Linked DNA regions of Homo sapiens: region 2 is linked to region 1. The links come from fine-mapping of genetic effects on gene expression. Tissue or cell type: whole blood. Region 1 holds a variant in brackets; the other region holds the start of a gene. All regions are shown on one strand. Distances are from middle to middle.

Region 1 (8,100 bases):
TACCATGTTTGGTAGGTGAGGTTTATTTTTGATTTGTGCTGGGTTTATTGTAAACCATGGAGCATCTGTACCGAGCTGACTCCAGGTAGCTGGAGGGGGCCGAGTGGCCTCAGTGCCTTCTATTTCCCACCAATGATGAGACGAGCCAATGCATGCCACCATCTCTCTGCACACCATGGTAGGATGGGGTGAAAGCTGGGAAGCACTGCTTGAGGCCCCAAGAGTTGCATGCCCCACCATGGACAACCCGTCCCCATCTTCACTCCCTCCACTCCTCTTGCTTCCCAGACACCTCAGACCCTATCTAACTCCATGTTTTTGTACTTGCTGTCTTCTCTACCTAAATGCCCTCCCTATCTGCTCATATCTTCCTGGCAAACTCCTACTTACCCCTCAAAGCCCAGGTGTTGCCTCTTCTGTGAAACTCCTCTGAGGCTCCAAGCCTCCGGGCCTCTGCTCCATCTCTCATTTGTGCTTCCTTCTGCCCCACTGCTCATTCCTGTTGACTGATGGTCTATCCTGCTATAGACTGGGCCCTCCCCAGAGCTAGAGACTGGGTTTCATTGTTGTTTGTACCCCCTGTTCCTAATGCAAGGCCCGGGGGGCTCAGACCAGGGGCTAACCATTTTTGTTGGTTAGCTAAATGAGCAAGGTAAGTGAGTGAATGAATGAGCAAATGTTTTCAGCTGCCAGACCTAGGGCAGAGGCCAGGATGGTCTCTCCCCTGAGCAGAGCACAGTCCAGAGGTGGTGCTGGCACAATGGATGTTCCAGTGGTGGAGGCGACTCTGCAAAGGTGGGCCAGGTGCCTGCTGCTGATGGGCGGGTGGAGGCCTGCCTGCGCCCAGCCCTCCTGCTTCCTCTAATCCCGCTTCTCCCCCTGCACCTCGGGCTGCCTCCTGGGGGCCAGTCCCACCCTCATTCCTCCCCCAGGCTTCTGCCAGCTGAATTATCCTCTCTGCTATCTCCTTCCCTCAGATGTGCTTGGGGGCTGGGGTGGGACACTGGGGTAGGAGACAGGTGATGGCCCTCACTGCTCTGGGGAAAATTAATTAGCCTGGGTTCTGCAAGTCACTTTGAAGACAAAAAAAAAAAGAAAAAAGAAAAAGAAAAAAAGAAAAGAAAAGAAAGGAAAGGAAAGAAAATACTCGCATGGGCCAACTATTATCGTGAGGTGAGGCTCATCGCTCCCCTATGCTAGGGCAGGGTACGCACCCATCATTCCACTCCATACCTGTTTTTCTAGAAAATCCATCTTCTGAATCTCAGCTCTCTGGTGCACGGTGAAAAAAGGCACAAGGAAAGCTGCATTGGTGCCCTCTCTGGGTGGGCCCCACCTGCGGAAAACTGATTCCCAGTTGCTGCTGGGATCCAGAGCTTCAGATCTGGGTTAGAATTCCCAGCCTCCTGACCCCTGCCTGGGGCCTGGCCTCTCTAATGCTTCTGGCATACAACAGGTGCTCAATAAACAGAGCTCCCAGCCTCCTGTCATTGTCTTGGGATGGAGCCGACAGCATCCACACAGCCCCAGGTCAAGGCTGAGCCTGCTGTCAGGGCCTGGTTTCCCGGCTGCCTCCCTAGGGACCACCCAGCCAGCCTGCCTGCTGCACTCCACTCCAGCTCAGAACCGCAGAGCAGCTGACAGCCCTGGGCGTGAGGATGCCAGCTTCCTCCCCACAGCTGGGAAGGCCTGGCCAGACCTCAGGGTGGACCCTTGGCATTAACACCCCCAGACTGGAGTTGTCTCCTTGACATACCCTGGAATGCTCTCCCTGCCCTTTCCCAAGGTGGAAACTGAGGCTTGGAGGGGTCTGGTCTCTGGTTAACAGATACCCAGCCAGGCTTCCAGGCTTCCAACCCCAGCTGGGCTGGGGGAGGGGGTGGCTGACAGGCAGGCAGGTGAGGTTTGGCAGAGGGAAGGTCTGGGAGCTTTTTAGGGCTTCAGAAGTTTGGCATGGGGAGCCGGAGGTGAGCGACGCTTCCTTCTTGGGACCCTCCTGCTCTCTGGTCTTGGCAAACCTGCCAGGCACAGGTGGGCCTCAGAACCAGCCCGTTTATAGCTCCAGGTGAGCGCTCATGGGGCCCCCCACTGAGGAGTTGGGGAGGAAGGCCGGGCCGTGGGCTCCAGATGAAAGGCCAGAGGCGCCCCTGCTATCTCTGCTGCTCCTCACCTGGTGTTCCTGGCCGGCTTCATTACCTGGAAAACCAGAGGGCTTCTCTTTTCTCCACCCCTACCCCCACCCGGGCTCCGCCCTCTCCAGCCGAGTCTCCTTTGCCTTGGAAGATGTATTACAGTGCCCAGTAGGTGCCAGGCCTGCACAAGGCACTGCAGGGGACCCTTGACAGAAGGACTGGGTTGGTGGGCTTCGTCTAGAGCAGGCCCTTCACGCCTTTGAGCCTCAGTTTCCTCTTCTGTAAGGTGGAGATAAGAGTCGCCTCCCTCACAGAGTTCCGGAGGAGACAAGAGAGATAGAGAAAGAGCTGAGTGGAGTCGTGGCCCTATCTTCACGGGACCCCCAGGTATTGGTTCCCAGCAGCCATGGGCTTGGCCTGTGCAAGGCACCTCAGATAAAGAGAGGAGGGGGCCTTGGACTCTGTCTCTGGAGGGAAGGCAAGATGGCTGCTTACTGCTTTGTCTGACAAATAATTCTCGGCACCTACCTGGTGACAGACCCAGTCTGAGCCGGTCTTTGCCTTAGGGAAACTTTCAAAGTGATACAAGAGATTAAAACCTGCTGATGCTATGGGGAGGGAATAACAGTGACCAGCATTTATTAAGCACTTACTGTATGCCAGGCCCTGTTTCCAGTGCTTTTCATGTTTTAACTCACCTAAGGCTCTCAGCCAACCACAAGGTTGGTATTTTCACAGGCTGAGGACACCACACGCAGCTAGGAAGTGTAAACTTAGGATTTGAACCTGGGCTGTTGGGCCCGAGAGCCCCTTTCAGAGAAGGCTGAGGACTTCTGAAGAAGTGTGGCTGCAATGCCGTAAAGGAGAATGGAAGAGGAACTTGGGAGAGGCCTTGCTGTTCCTTCTAGACCACCACCCTCTCCTGCTCACATGCCTTCAGTGACTTCCCAGTGCCTACAGGACCAGTGCAGGGCCTGGGGCTCCTGACCCCCATGCCCTCCGCTGACCTCACCCTTCACGGCTGGCTGTGCCCTTGCCTCCCTCACAGGGCTGTCCTGCCTTTTCTCCCTTTCCACAGGCCCTGCTCTGGCGTCCAATCCCAATCTCCCAGCTTCCCGGGTTAGGGTCAGTCTGAGCAGTGGCACCGTCTCGTGAGTTTCTGGTCCTGCCAGCCAGACGCACTTATGCCAGGAGGTTCAAGGGGTGCTAGTTTTTAAAACTGGGATTGTTTTATCACATTTTATTGTCTTTCTTGGTTAAACCCTTGAGTATACAGTAGATATATATGCATAGCAGAAAACCTGGAAAATAGGACAGTAAAAGACCAGCAAAGACTCAGAATCCTGCAGCCTTCCCCAAGAGTTAGCTGCTATTAACAGATGGGATCTGGCCAGTACACCTTTTCTTTTCTTTTTTTCTAGTAATGCATATTTTTAAAATGCATTTTCCTTTCCTATTTCAGGGTTTGTTCCCCAGGTGATCAGTGAGTCCTTCTTGCTTCTAGCCTAAAACTCTCGTATGGGGTTTTCCCTCCAGAGTGGGGAAGCCCTGAGAAGATGCCATTCTGGGTTGCAGGGTGGGCAAGAAGAGGGTCTTCCCTGACATGCGGTCAGAGAGACCAGGGGTTCTGAGTATCCCATGAAATGAGGACTAGGGGGTCGCTAAGTGACCTCTACAACCTGGAAGGCCCATTCCACAGGGCAGGCGCCTCTGTCTGTCTCGTCCATTCTTTAATCCCCATAGCTACAGCAGT[A/G]TGGGCTAGGAACAGGCACTCACTAAGTATTTATTGGATGAATGAGGCCGTGGGTTCTGTACAGAGCAGAGAATATGCAGACCAGAGGGGAGAAGGCCTTGCCCATGGCCCTATGCTCAGGAGTCAGGAATCAGAGGCTGGGTTGTCCCTGCACGATGGGGTGGGGGTGGGGAGCCCTGAGGCCAGGATAGGGTGCTGCAGCTTCCTGGTGGGGTCAGAGGCCCTGCCCAGCCCCCTCCCACCATAGGGCAGAGGAAGTGGAGGCTGCATGTCAGAATGCCTGAGGACAGCCTGGCTGCAGAGCCATTTATCACCTGCAGCAATTCCAGGAATGTGGAAATAGGCCAAAGTCAGAAAAGCTTGGAGGGTGGGAGGCCAAGAGATCCCCCCAACCCCTTTTTTCAAGAAGTAGAGAAGCCCAGAGCCTTGGCACCTGGGATGTGTGTTACCTGAAGAATCAGACTCATGGAGCGTGGGCTAACTTTTGCTTTTAGAGGATGCCCACCACGTGCCTGGCACTGTGCAGTGAACTTCACACCTGGCCATCTGGGGCTAAAGCTTGTGCAGTGATGCCCTGTGCTTTCTTCAAACCTGAGCCAGGCTGGGGCCAAGCTGTCTGCCTAACACCCTGCATAGCTCCCGCCTGCTGAGAGGAAAAGTGGAATTCTCACAGAGGCCACAGCCCTGACTGAGCCAGGTCTCCTCCAGTCTCCCTCCTGCTCACTCTGCTCCAGCTGCTGCCCTGAGCCTGCCTCAGGGCCTTTGCCCCTGCTGTTTCTTCTGCCTGGGGTAAGTCTTCCCCATTCAGCTGCCTGGTTTATTGCTTTGTTTCCAGGGCCCTGATCAGAAATCACTTCCTCCGAGAGGCCTTCTCCGACCACCCTTGTATGAGAAACACCCCTAGCTGCTCCGCAGTCCCCTAGACATGCACTGTCCAATACAGCAGCCACAAGCAATGTGTAGTCTTGAGTACCTGAAATGTGCCCAGTGACAGTCCAGGTGTGCATAATGTCCAGTATGCACTGATTTCACAGACATGGCATGAAAACGACAAAATAACTTATTAATCATTTTTTGCATTGATGGCATGTTGACATGATAATATTTGGACCTAATAGGTTAAATCACCTATATTGTTAATATTAGTTCCATCCGTTTCTTCTTGCTTTTGTCCAAGCAGCTATGAGAAAGTGTAGAATTACACAGGTGCCTCACACACTGGGGCACCATCACCTGACCTGGTTTTCTTCCTGGCCCTCACCCGTCTGCCACATCGCGGGTTTACTTGTTCATCTGTTTATTATCCACCCTCCCCAGGAAAACACCAGCTCTGTGAGGGCAGGGATTTGTGCCCGTTTTGTGGCTGCTGTACCCCACACATGTAGAGATTATGAATGAATGAAGGGGTGCCCTGTGCCCGCATTGTGCTCAAGTGCTTAACCTTGAGGGAAGGCGGGGAGGAAGGGAGGGGTGAGCCCACGGTGGGTGGCCAGAGTACTACAGGGAGATGAGAACTGATCTCGGGTCCAGACACTGCCTCTGCCTATGGGCGGCAGGAGCCTCAGTTTCCCTGTCTGTCCTATGAGGGTCTTGTTTTCTGCCTAAAGGTTCAAAATGGGGTGTCCTCCATGAGGCTGTCTTGGGAGCTCCAGCGGGCAGGGGAGCTGGGCACAGCCCTTTCCTGACCAGCACCAGAGCTGGACAGCGGATGAAAGGAATCGCCTCCAGAATGAGCCCACTGTCTTCACCATTCCTATGGAGGTGGTGCGAATGCAGGAGCTGAGACTGGCTTGGGCAGGAAGTCTCCAAGCCTCAGGGTGGGGGCGGGGGCCAGAGGGGCTTGGGGACACACAAGTGGACATGGCACGGGGGGTCCTTGAGAGGGATGTCAGATAGCTCCAGTGAAGTGAGACGGATGATGGGAGGGTGTCAGAGGGGCACTGTTGGCTTCCAGGGCAGGGGTGGCCACTGCTGGGGTTGATAGAAGAAGGACTGATTCCCAGGGGCAGACGTGTTCCCACTGGTGAGAAGGCTGCATGGGTGTCTGCAGGGCAGGGCAGGGCAGCCCAGGGGGAGAAGAGCCAGGCAAAGGTGTAGGGGTGTTTGGGGCAGCAAGGAGGACGATGAGGCTGGGAGCTGGGGACCCTGGGTAGTGGTGGAAGCTGGCAGGAGGGCTTGTCGGGGGCCTGGCTGCTCCCGAGTGGATGTGGCCTTCCATAGACTCTGTGGTCATGGCGGGCATGGTGGCTGCTGCTCCCAGGGTACTCAGAATGGGGCCACCTGGAGTGATGAGGAGAACAAGGGACCCTGGGTATCCCTGCTGCAGGGGTGCTGGAAGGTCAGCCAGCCACCAATCCAGCTAAGATAGTCCCCGCAGAGGATGGCTGGCCAGCCCCAGCTTGCACACCTCCCAGCACGAGGCAGTTGCTTCTTCACAGCGGCTCAGGATGGGGATAGCTGCTCTCCACAGGGCAAGTTGAGTTTGTCTTCCTGTGACCCTGCCCCTTCCCAGGCCAGGACTCTGTCCTTGGGGACAGAGATGTAAAACAGCCCTACAGGGACTGGGGACCATGATGAATTCTCCAGCTGCTCCTTGAAGCCTATCTCCAGCCTGGTTCCTCCTCCGGTGACTCCCTGCCTGTCTCTGCTCTTTCTGCTGGGAGATGCAGACGGGGAAGAAGCCGCATTCTGCAGGACCAGGGGGTGGGGTGCCCCCAGATTACCTGTGACTTTGGGCATGTCATAGCCCTGCTCACAGCCTCAGTTTCCTGCTCTGGGAGGTGGGTATGAATCACAGAGCTTCCCTCGCAGGGTGAGCGTGAGGCCCTTGCAAATGGCGCCAGGCCTGGCCCCATGGGATTGCTGGGCGCGCTCCCCTGCTTTCCTGGGGAGCTGGGTTTTGAGTGTGGGCTGCCAGGCGGGCGGGCAGGCGGGCAGGCCTGGCCCGTTACAGGGATTAATGGGTGGCTGGCTTTGGAATGATCACCCCCCATACATGGGAGGTAGGGTGGTGGGCAGCCAGGGAGCCAGGAGTGATTCCACACCTGCACATAATTACCAAAGGATCTGCCTCCTGGGAATTATTTTTATCTTAATATTTTATGTGGTTCCAAAAATTGGGAGAGGGTTGAGCAGGGCCTGGGACACAAGCAGCAGGGGTTGCTGGGGGCACTAGGAGGTCACTGCCCCTCATGGCCACCTGTCCAGGCACCTGGCACTGGAGTTTGCCTGCCATCGGGAGAGGATGCCCAGCTGCTCTGGGGCCTGCAGATCATCTGGGAAAGGTGAGAGTCCATTGGAGGCAACGGAAGCCCTGTGCTGCTGTGGCTGGGAGAGCGTGAGTGTGCACACGTGTGTGCACGTGTGTGTGTGCAGTGTAGTGGCTGCACACTGCAGTGGCTGAGCGGAACTGGATGTGTGAGTGAATTTAGATGGGACATATCTGAGCAGGTGGGTGTGCATCTGAGTGTGCTCAGTGTGTGTGTCAGGGCAGCGTGTGCCTGCGCATCTGAGTGTGTCTTGGAGGAGGGCGGGGGTTGATCTTTAGTGGGGGCCGACTGTGGGTGCGCATGCACCACAGCATGATGGTATGTGTCTGTGCTGTGGGGTTGTCGGTGCATTTGGTTTGGGTGTGTGGCAGTGCTGGACTGTGAGTGTGTGGCTCAACTGGGCAGCTACTGGAAGAGGTGGGGAGACTGTGTGTGGGGTGGGATGTGTACACGGTGTGTGCTTAGCACCACGGGGAGGTGCTGAGTCAGTGGCAGTGAGGGAGAGAGCTGTGAGTGCGCAGGGGTGAAGGTGTGAGGGCTATTTGTGTATGACTGGGTGGGTATGAGTATCTATATTTGGTCTGAGCCCAGATAGGGTGTGTGTGTGTGTGTGTGTGTGTGTGTGTGAGAGAGAGAGAGAGAGAGAGAAAGAGAGAAAGAGAAAGAGAGAGATGAACATGTGTGTGGGATGAGTGGGTGGGTGTATTTGCAGCTGTGCAGTTTTATGGTTCCTACTTGGGTTGAGGGACCCGTGGCTGAGTGCCTGTCCTATTGCCTGGCTGGGGCTGACCACCAGTGGGTGTGGGATTGCCCAACAAGTGAGGTGCCTGTAAGTGTTTAGCAAGGGTGCGATCTGGGCTCACGGTGACCTATACCTCCTAGGCTCAAGTGATCCTTCTACCTCAGCCTCCCAAATAGCTGGTAACACAGACATGCACCACCACGA
Region 2 (8,086 bases), 110 kb after region 1:
AGATGGAGCATTAGGCCAGCAAGGGGGCATGGCCTGGGAACCCTTCGTAGGTGTCCAGCACTGGCCACCCCACTGCCCCCAGCAGTGGTCTCCCAACTTTTTTGATCCTGCACCCCTAACTCATGTCCATTCGAATAGAAACCCTATAATTTCTACATAGGCTCTTGAATCAATGCGTATACCCAATATCAGTGAAACATACACACACTTGATTTTTGTTTTAGAAACAAAAAAAGATGATGTATGTCACAAACATTACATGGAGTAAAAAAGGCAAGTTGCCTTTGAGTTTATGGTAGGATGCAATTGAGATGAAGTTCAAAAACATGCAAAAGAAGCTCTATATTGCTAGGGAATCATCTCTTTGGTAAAATTGTAAAGGCAAGCAAGGAAATGATGACTTCAAAGTTTCATGCAGCAGGTGCCTTTGAAGGAGTGATGGGTGCACAGATGTTCATTAAAAAAATCTGTTTTTTAATGTATATGTAACATATACTCTCATGTATGTATATGTTTTATTGTTGGAAAAAAAACTTAAAAAGTAATTGTAAGTAGAAGTCCTGGCATTTTCTTCCTGCTGTCAATGGAGTACATGTATCCCACTCCGGGCATGACTGGCCTAGAGGATGTGTGCGACTATTATGAGGAGAATTCCTATCTTCCTCAACTATTCACTGATATATATCGGATACCCATCATGTGCCACGTACCATGCTAGGAGACAGCTGTGCACCTGACAGGCAATGCCCTGCCCTCAAGGAACTAGGGAGGGTGACAACACAGATGTCACAAATGAATAAAACAGGCCATCTCGACAGTGATATGTACTATGAAGAAAGTAAAGGAAGATGCTGGGATGGCAACTGGGGTGTGGGGGTGGTGAGGAAAGTGAGGGCCACTTTAGCTGAGGTGATCAAGAGGACTTCCTTGAGGAGTTGACATTAGAACAGAACAGAGATCTGAATTGCCAGGAGGCATCTGTGGGAAGATCTGGAGAAGGGTATTCTATGCAGAGGGAACAGAAAATGCAAAGTTCTAGGAGACAAGTTCGGGGTCTTCAAGGAATAGAAAGAACCCATGGAAACTGCTACAAAGCCAGGGCTTGAGATGCAGGGAGATCCTGGGAAGAGGAGATGGCTGAGGGCTGGCATTTTCTCAGGTGCATCAGGCAGCACCAGGAAGCACTGAAGGGTGTAAGCAGGACACTGACATGACCTGGTGGTCCCCACTCCATGTAGGAAAGACCTGTGGGGTGCCAGAGCAGGAGCAGAGGGACTAGGCAGGTTAGGGTTGGTGGTGGCTTGGCTTGGTGGCAGTGGTAGGGCTGCAGGTAGAGCCACTGGACAAGTGCCTCGTCCTGGGGCTCAGCTGTGGGCAGTTTTCTGGAGTTGCAATTTGTTAGAGTGAGGTTCTCCTGTACCAATAACTCAAGGAGGTGACATGGACCCATGCCCTCCAAGCGCACAACTGATCACTCCTGCCGTTTCCCTAGGCTCCTGCCACGTGCCAGCCTTCTCCCTGCAGTAGGCACTCTGTCCTTGCTCCTCCTCTCCCTGGAAGCGCTCTCACCCCTGATCTTCACAAGCTTGGCTTCTTGCCATTATTCACATGACCTCAAGGGTCACCTCCCTGACCAGCCCAGCTAAGGGCTCCTCCCTCCCCTCCCTACCCCTAATAAATTCCCATCACAATCTCTGTTTTGTTTACTGGATATTCTTGATTACTCATGGTCTACTGAAATGTTTTCATGTCTGTGTTTTTAATTTGCATGCTCACTTGATCACTTGTCTTCCTCCTGAGAGGATGAGCTCCCTGAGGGCAGGGAGGCTGTCTGCTGGTTCACTAAATGACTGCTGAATAAATGGATTGTGGCACTTCAAAGATGTGGCTCCGGGTGAGTACCTATTACATGGCAGGTGCCCCCCAAATATGCATCAAATGCATCAGTAAACTTGGGCAGTGTCCCTACTATGTGCCAAGGCAGTATGGTGGGTGCTGCCACAAACAGCAGCTCATGTGACCTTTCCACACAGCCCTGTGGGGCAAGAATCATCACATCCGTTTCACATATTTGAAAATTGAGGCTCACAGAGGTTGGGACCTGGAGGAAGGTTCTCAGCTAGCAGGTGTTGGAGGTGGGACAGCCTGGCTTTGCACTGGCATCTCAGCGCTAAACCCGAGTCTAACACACACTAGAATGCTGGGAATGTCTGAGGAAGAAGCAGCATGAGAAGATTAAGTGGAGACGTTTTGGCATCATTTGTCAGGAGGACCCTCTGAGCACCTAGCTGGCCACCAGGAAATTTCTACACCAGCTGAGAGTGGATAGGTTGGCATACTGGGGCCAAAAATTCATAGGTGCAATAGACTAGCCCCTAAGGGTCTGGCCTAGGTTCTCATCCAAGCTTCCTTCACTTATTAGTTGTGCGATCTTAGGCAAGTTTCCTTCCCTCTGCACTTCAGTTTCTCCATGGCTAAATTAGGGTATTGATAACTAGTCCCCACCTCATTGGCTGCTGTGAAAATCAAATGTGCTAGAACATGGAAAGTGCTTAGAAGGTGCCAGGCACATAGTGAGTGCCCCATAAATGTGGTGGTGGTGTTGTAATTATCATTATCGTTATCGGATCTGATTGTTGCAATAGGCTAGTGCGGAGTCACCTGAACTATCCGAGCAAAATAAGAATACCGCAGATGCCCCACCATCAGCCAGAAGCGGGTAGAGCCGTCACGTCTGGGGAAATGGAAAAACCTTTTAGGGACGTTGAGACTTCACCCCTCATGTCCACTATACAGATGAGTAGCCCGAGGCGCAGGGAGCAGCAGGGCCTGGCCCGAAGTCACCTGCAACTCCCACCTCTCCGACCTGGACCTCTCCCTACCCCAGAGGGCAGCTTGGGGCGGAAAGCCAGCGCCCTGCAGGACTCCCTCCCTCCCTCCCTGCCGGGCAGCTGGGCCCCCGCAGGGCCAATCCGGGGAGGCCGCGGCGCCGGCGGGAGGGCGGCCCGCGGGCGGGCGGGGCGGCCAGGGGAGGTTATTTTCTGCTGTTTTCCCTTTCTGTCTCCCCCGCCACCCGTGTCCCTCCTCCCCGTTTCTAATTAAAAAGGAGATAAAGCCGCACGCGGCCCGAGTCAATCGGCTCGAGCCAATCGGCCCTACTGGCTTCCTGGATGCTGAATGTGCGCGGGGCGGCGGGGCGCGGGCCAAGATGAAGATTAAAGCAGGGGAAAAAAAGGAAAGCCACCCAGACGCGGGCGAATCAATAACACTTAAAACACACCGGCAGGCTGGCGGTACTGGCGCGAGCCCCGCAGCCGCCTCTCCGCCGCTGGTCGGGCTGGCGGCCCCTGGTCGGCTCTGCACGCACCTGCTAGCGGCCGCGGCCGGACAACTTGCGAAATCCCCGCTCCAGAGACGTGGACTGGGGAAGTGACGGGGTAGGGGGGTAGTAGTGACAAAACACAAAGGGTCTGCCACGCACATCCCCTCGCCGCAGCCCCTGCGGTCCACCCCTCCTCAAAAGGGATGGTAATGGGTTCACTGCTGGGGGCTGGAGGGGCAGGGTGTGTGAGACCTACCAAGCGGGCCCTTCAGCGCCAGAACCTCTATCCATGCCCAGATCCCCCCGCCCCCACACCGCTCCGAGCCTCACACGCGTTGTCTTAAGTACAAAGGGTGACCGGCTTTGCACAAGCAGCTCCAGGACGCGTCCCGAGCTGCCCCCTCCCACCTTCCAGCCAGAGCGCCCCCGAGCCCCACCTCCACAGAAACGCTAGGTGAAGCCGGAGGGCTGCTCGCGCGCCCGGCCGCCTCTGCTGCCCAGTTCCAGGGGGCGGGGTGTCCCGCCTCTCTCTAGCGCTTGTCTCCCTCTGTGTCTCAGACCGCCTCTCGTCCCACCTTTGTGTGTGTTTGTTGGGGGTGGGACGTGCTGTCCCCTTGGCCCGGGAAGGGGCTCTGGGAGTCTAAGGGCCCCTGGAAATTGGGTGGTGCCAAGGCTCCGAGCGGCGGTTTATGTTTTTGCCAGCGAATGTCCTTCCTCCTGGGTACCTGTTCCCTGTTTGCACGGACCGGCCCCGCCAGCCACCTGGGGACTGCCCAGTCTCTAGGAACGGCTGTGCCGCGCCTCCTGAGAGAGTTCGTCTCGGGCTCCGGGGACTGAGCTCCCCGAGATTGGCTGTGGTCCTGGCTTGATGTTCCTGCTAGACCTGCTGTCCCTATGCCCGGGTCCGAAGGGTCCCCGGGATGGGCTGAACCTTTGCAGCAGCTAGCCCTCCCCCAGAGTCCCTCAGGCTGGAGCGTCCCTACCGGCTGTCTCTGGTCCTGGGGGATTCCAGACTCAGACGTCCTCAGGATGGCCAGTCCCCCTGCCTATATCTCCTGGGGTGTCCTGCGGGGGGCCTTTGTGCGTCCACCGCTCCCACACCGCACCCACCCGGCCTCTCAGAGAAGCTGTGGAAGTTGGCCGGCAGAGGCTCGCAGGCGGCACACCTCCCTCCCCGGGCCGTGCCAACTTTGTCGAAACACGCGCGGAAAGGGCGCAGGCAGCCCTTACCCGATCCGGAGGTAGACCATGCCCAGGCTGAGAAAGAGGTGGCCCAGGCAGCGCCGCGCTTTCCGGTTCATAGTCCCGATTGGCCGCCGGGGCCGCGGGCCGGGCTGTGCTGATCCCGCGGGCCGGCCCCGGCGGGGCAATCAACATAGCCCGCCCGGGAGGCGCGAGCCGAGGCGTCCCCGGGGCCGTCTGTCGGTGCGCCCGTCCGCGCGCTCCGCGCCTGAGCCTCGCCAGGAGCACGGGAGCCACGGAGCGGGAGGAGGGAGGGAGGAGCGAGCGCGGCGTGGGGCGACGCCGGGCTGCGCGCGAGCGACCGGTGCAAGTGTGCGAGACGCGGGGAGTGCGGGGGCGCTGCTGCCTCCAGCCCCCGCCCCTCCCTCCTTTCCCCCGTCCCTCCCCCGCCCCCTCCCCCGCCCGCCTCCCCGGAGCGCCCGCCCAGCGCCCCTGCGCCCGCGGGACAGGGCCGCCTGCACAAGGCGCGCGCTCGCGCCTTTCCATGCGCGCTCCCGGGGGCCCCCTCCCTGCTCCGGGGTGCAGGTGGCAGGCTGGGGAGCACAGCCCGGTTGGAGGCGGTAGGAGCCCGCTCGCCCCCCACCCGTCACTAACTTGCAGATTGCAGGGCGAGTGGGCGTCCAGAGGCTGCCCTCGGGTGGAGTGGACCAGACTCGGCCGAGAGGCCTAGTGCCTTGGTCTGCTGCCCTGCTCCCTCCAGCCCGGAACAGGGAGCTGGGGCTGACAGGGCACACCCCAGTTCCCCAACCCCAGCTTCAGGGGAGGGCGCCCCCTTTCGCGGAGCGACGGGCTGACTGGCTCAGTGTATTTCTTCCCTACTCCCACCTATTCGAGAGTGGCGGCAGGGGGTGCCCAGGTTGGGCAGCCTCCTCTGGGATCCTGCTGTTAGCCGACAGACTGAGTCGGGCTGAGGCCCAGTTGCCCCGCGCGGAACAGCAGTGGGGCGCCTGAGCCGCGGGAGCGTGAGGGGCGCAGCTGGCCGCTCAGAGCGCGCTCGCGGCGTCACCAGGCGGACGCGGCGGGTGGTGCACCTCGGCCTCGCTCCCGGGAACAGAATGCTTTGAGTGCCCTGGCCGACCCGAGGGGGCTAACACCCTTCTTTGGTGTACACCTCATCCAGTGAGCTAGGGGGAGTCTAACCGTCCCTGGAAATTGGGTGGTGCCAAGACTCCGAGCGGCAGTTTATGTTTTTGCCAGCGAATGTCCATCCTCCGGGTACCTGTTCCCTGTTTGCACGGACCGGTCCCGCCTGCCACCTGGGGGTTGCCCAGTCTCTAGGAGCGGCTGCGCCTGCGCCTCCGGAGAGTGTTCCTCTCGGGCTCCAGGGACTGAGCTCCCTGGGAGTGGCTGTGGTCCTGGCTTGGTGTTCCTGCTGGACCTGCTGTCCCTATGCCCAGGTCTGGCAAATCTGAACTCAGGTTTCAGCTGAAGACACTGAGGCTCAAGGAGGTGAAGGTGTTTGCCCAGAGTCACCAGCTAGCGAGTGGCACAACCATATGGGAAACAAAGTATGCCCAACTGTAGTAACCTCCTGCACCCAGTCCTGACTATCCTTCAAGATTGCCTTTCTAAATTACACACACACACACACACACACACACCCGAAAGCCACCATTCAGGTATTCATTCATATTCCATATTCTGTGCCAACCACGATAGTGGGCACCGTGGACACAAGGAAGAAGAAAGGCAACAGTCTTTCTTCTTGGGGCCAGGAAGGAGACAGATGATAAGTGAACAAGAACAGAGTTGCAGATAGTAGACCATTAAGCAGGGTGATGGGAGAGGGAATACTGGGTGTTGGAGGGTTAATTTTAGATCTGAGGAGGTGGCATTTGAGGTGAGGCCTGAAGGACACAGCATCAGGGGTCCAGCACTGCAGGAAGGGGACCAGCAGGTGCAAAAGCTCAGAGGTGGGCATGAGCCCCAGGGAGGAGATGGTGGGCTGCAATAGAGAGAGAGAGAAGGCCTGAGCTTGAAGGGAGATGGGGATACACAGATCCACAAAGCTGTGTGGGCACGTCAAGGAGCTTGGATTTCAGTGGTGTGTTCAGCTGGGGACATTGGAGGGATGAAGAAGGGGGTGACTGATCTGATTTGTGTGTTCAAAAGCTCCCCGTGGCTGTCCTAAGGGAACACACTGTGGGAATGGGGACAGGTGAGTAAAGTGCGCCATCAAGCAGACCAGAGAGGAGATGACAGTAGGGGTCCAGGTGAGACATTGGTAGTTTGGGTTAGGGTGGTGCTCTTAGAACATGACCACAAAATTATTTGACACTCCTCCCATGAAGAAGTGGGTTCTCTGTGCTCTGCCTGCGTGAATCTGGGTGGGCTTGTGATGGCTTCCACCAATAAGATGTAGCAGAAGTGATGCTCAAAAATTACAAGTCTTCGCGATAAAAGACAATGCAGTCTTTGTTTTGTTGGCTGGCGCACCAGTGCTGGGGCCCTGAGCCACCATGGAAGAGGCCTAGAGGCCACCATGCTGTGAGGAAGCCCAGGCATAGGCAGAGGCCACCTGTGCTTGCTCCAGCCCACAGTCCCAGGTGAGTTCAGCACTGGAGTCACCTTGCCCAGGTGCCAGAAATGTGGGTGAAGGTACCTCCACCATTATGTCATGCTGGCTTTGTGTCTGCCAAGCTAAAGCATGGTGGACAGTGGCCGTGTAGTATCCCCAGTGTACCCTGCCCAACTTCCTGAGCCCTATAACTTGTGAATATAATGATTATTTTGCCACTAAGTTTGGAGGGGATGCTTGTTACACAGCAGTTGTAACTAGGACAATAAGGGTAGAAGTGGGGTGCAGAGAGGAGAAAAGGACCCAGGATACGGGGCCTGTGTCTTGCACAGACAGGACTTGAAAGGATTCGGTGGGGGTGGGTAGAGAAAGAGAAAGAGGAATGATAGGTGACCCCGATGTTGGCTGGAGTATTTGGGTGAATGGAGGTGGCTTGTAATGATCTGGAGATGGTTGGAGGAGCTAAGAGTTTGGTAAAGGAAATCACAAGGTCTGTCCTGACCATGTTCTTCCCTCCTGCATTGTTCCTCCTCCTCTTCCTCCTCTTCCACCCTCAGATGAAGTCAGCACAAGCCCTGAGCAGTCTACCTCCAAAGAATCTCCAAATATGACCTTTATTTTCTGCATTCACCATCATTCCTAGACCAAAGTTTCACTCATGTCATGAATGCTGGGGTGTACTTGTGACCGGATGTCAGGCCAGGTGCTAGGCACATACCAATAGCCCATGCAGGTGCTGGGTACATCGGAAGATGAGAGAGGAGGAGGAGGAAGAAGAGGAGGAACACAGCAGGGAAGAATATGGCCAAGACAGATCAGTATATCAAATAAATCCAGTCTCTGCCCCTCCTGGAGCAACCCATCTGAGGACCGATTTCATGATCAAACACATAGGTAGCACTATTACATGCCAGGCACTGTCATTTACAGCCTCAGCATATCAACTCACTGAATCCCCTGAAAATGCCAAGGGGTAGGTACTCCACTTGTTGATATCATTATCA

Evidence for each region. PIP is the estimated chance that this variant, and not a neighbour inherited with it, causes the effect.
Region 2: WNT7A starts here. The variant in region 1 is fine-mapped to the expression of WNT7A in whole blood (INTERVAL, PIP above 0.99).

What each region holds. Positions count from the first base shown.
Region 1 is chr3:13,766,442-13,774,541 of GRCh38, forward strand. No RefSeq gene overlaps it. Among named protein-coding and RNA genes, the nearest start is that of WNT7A, 110 kb to the right of the region's middle. RefSeq lists an enhancer at 6,888-7,388. The variant A/G (reference allele first, on the strand shown) is at 3,886.
Region 2 is chr3:13,875,194-13,883,279 of GRCh38, forward strand. WNT7A (Wnt family member 7A) reads right to left here and starts at 4,878. Exons shown (of 4, transcript NM_004625.4): 1 at 4,553-4,878. The coding sequence starts at 4,623. RefSeq lists enhancers at 3,351-3,852, 4,355-4,856.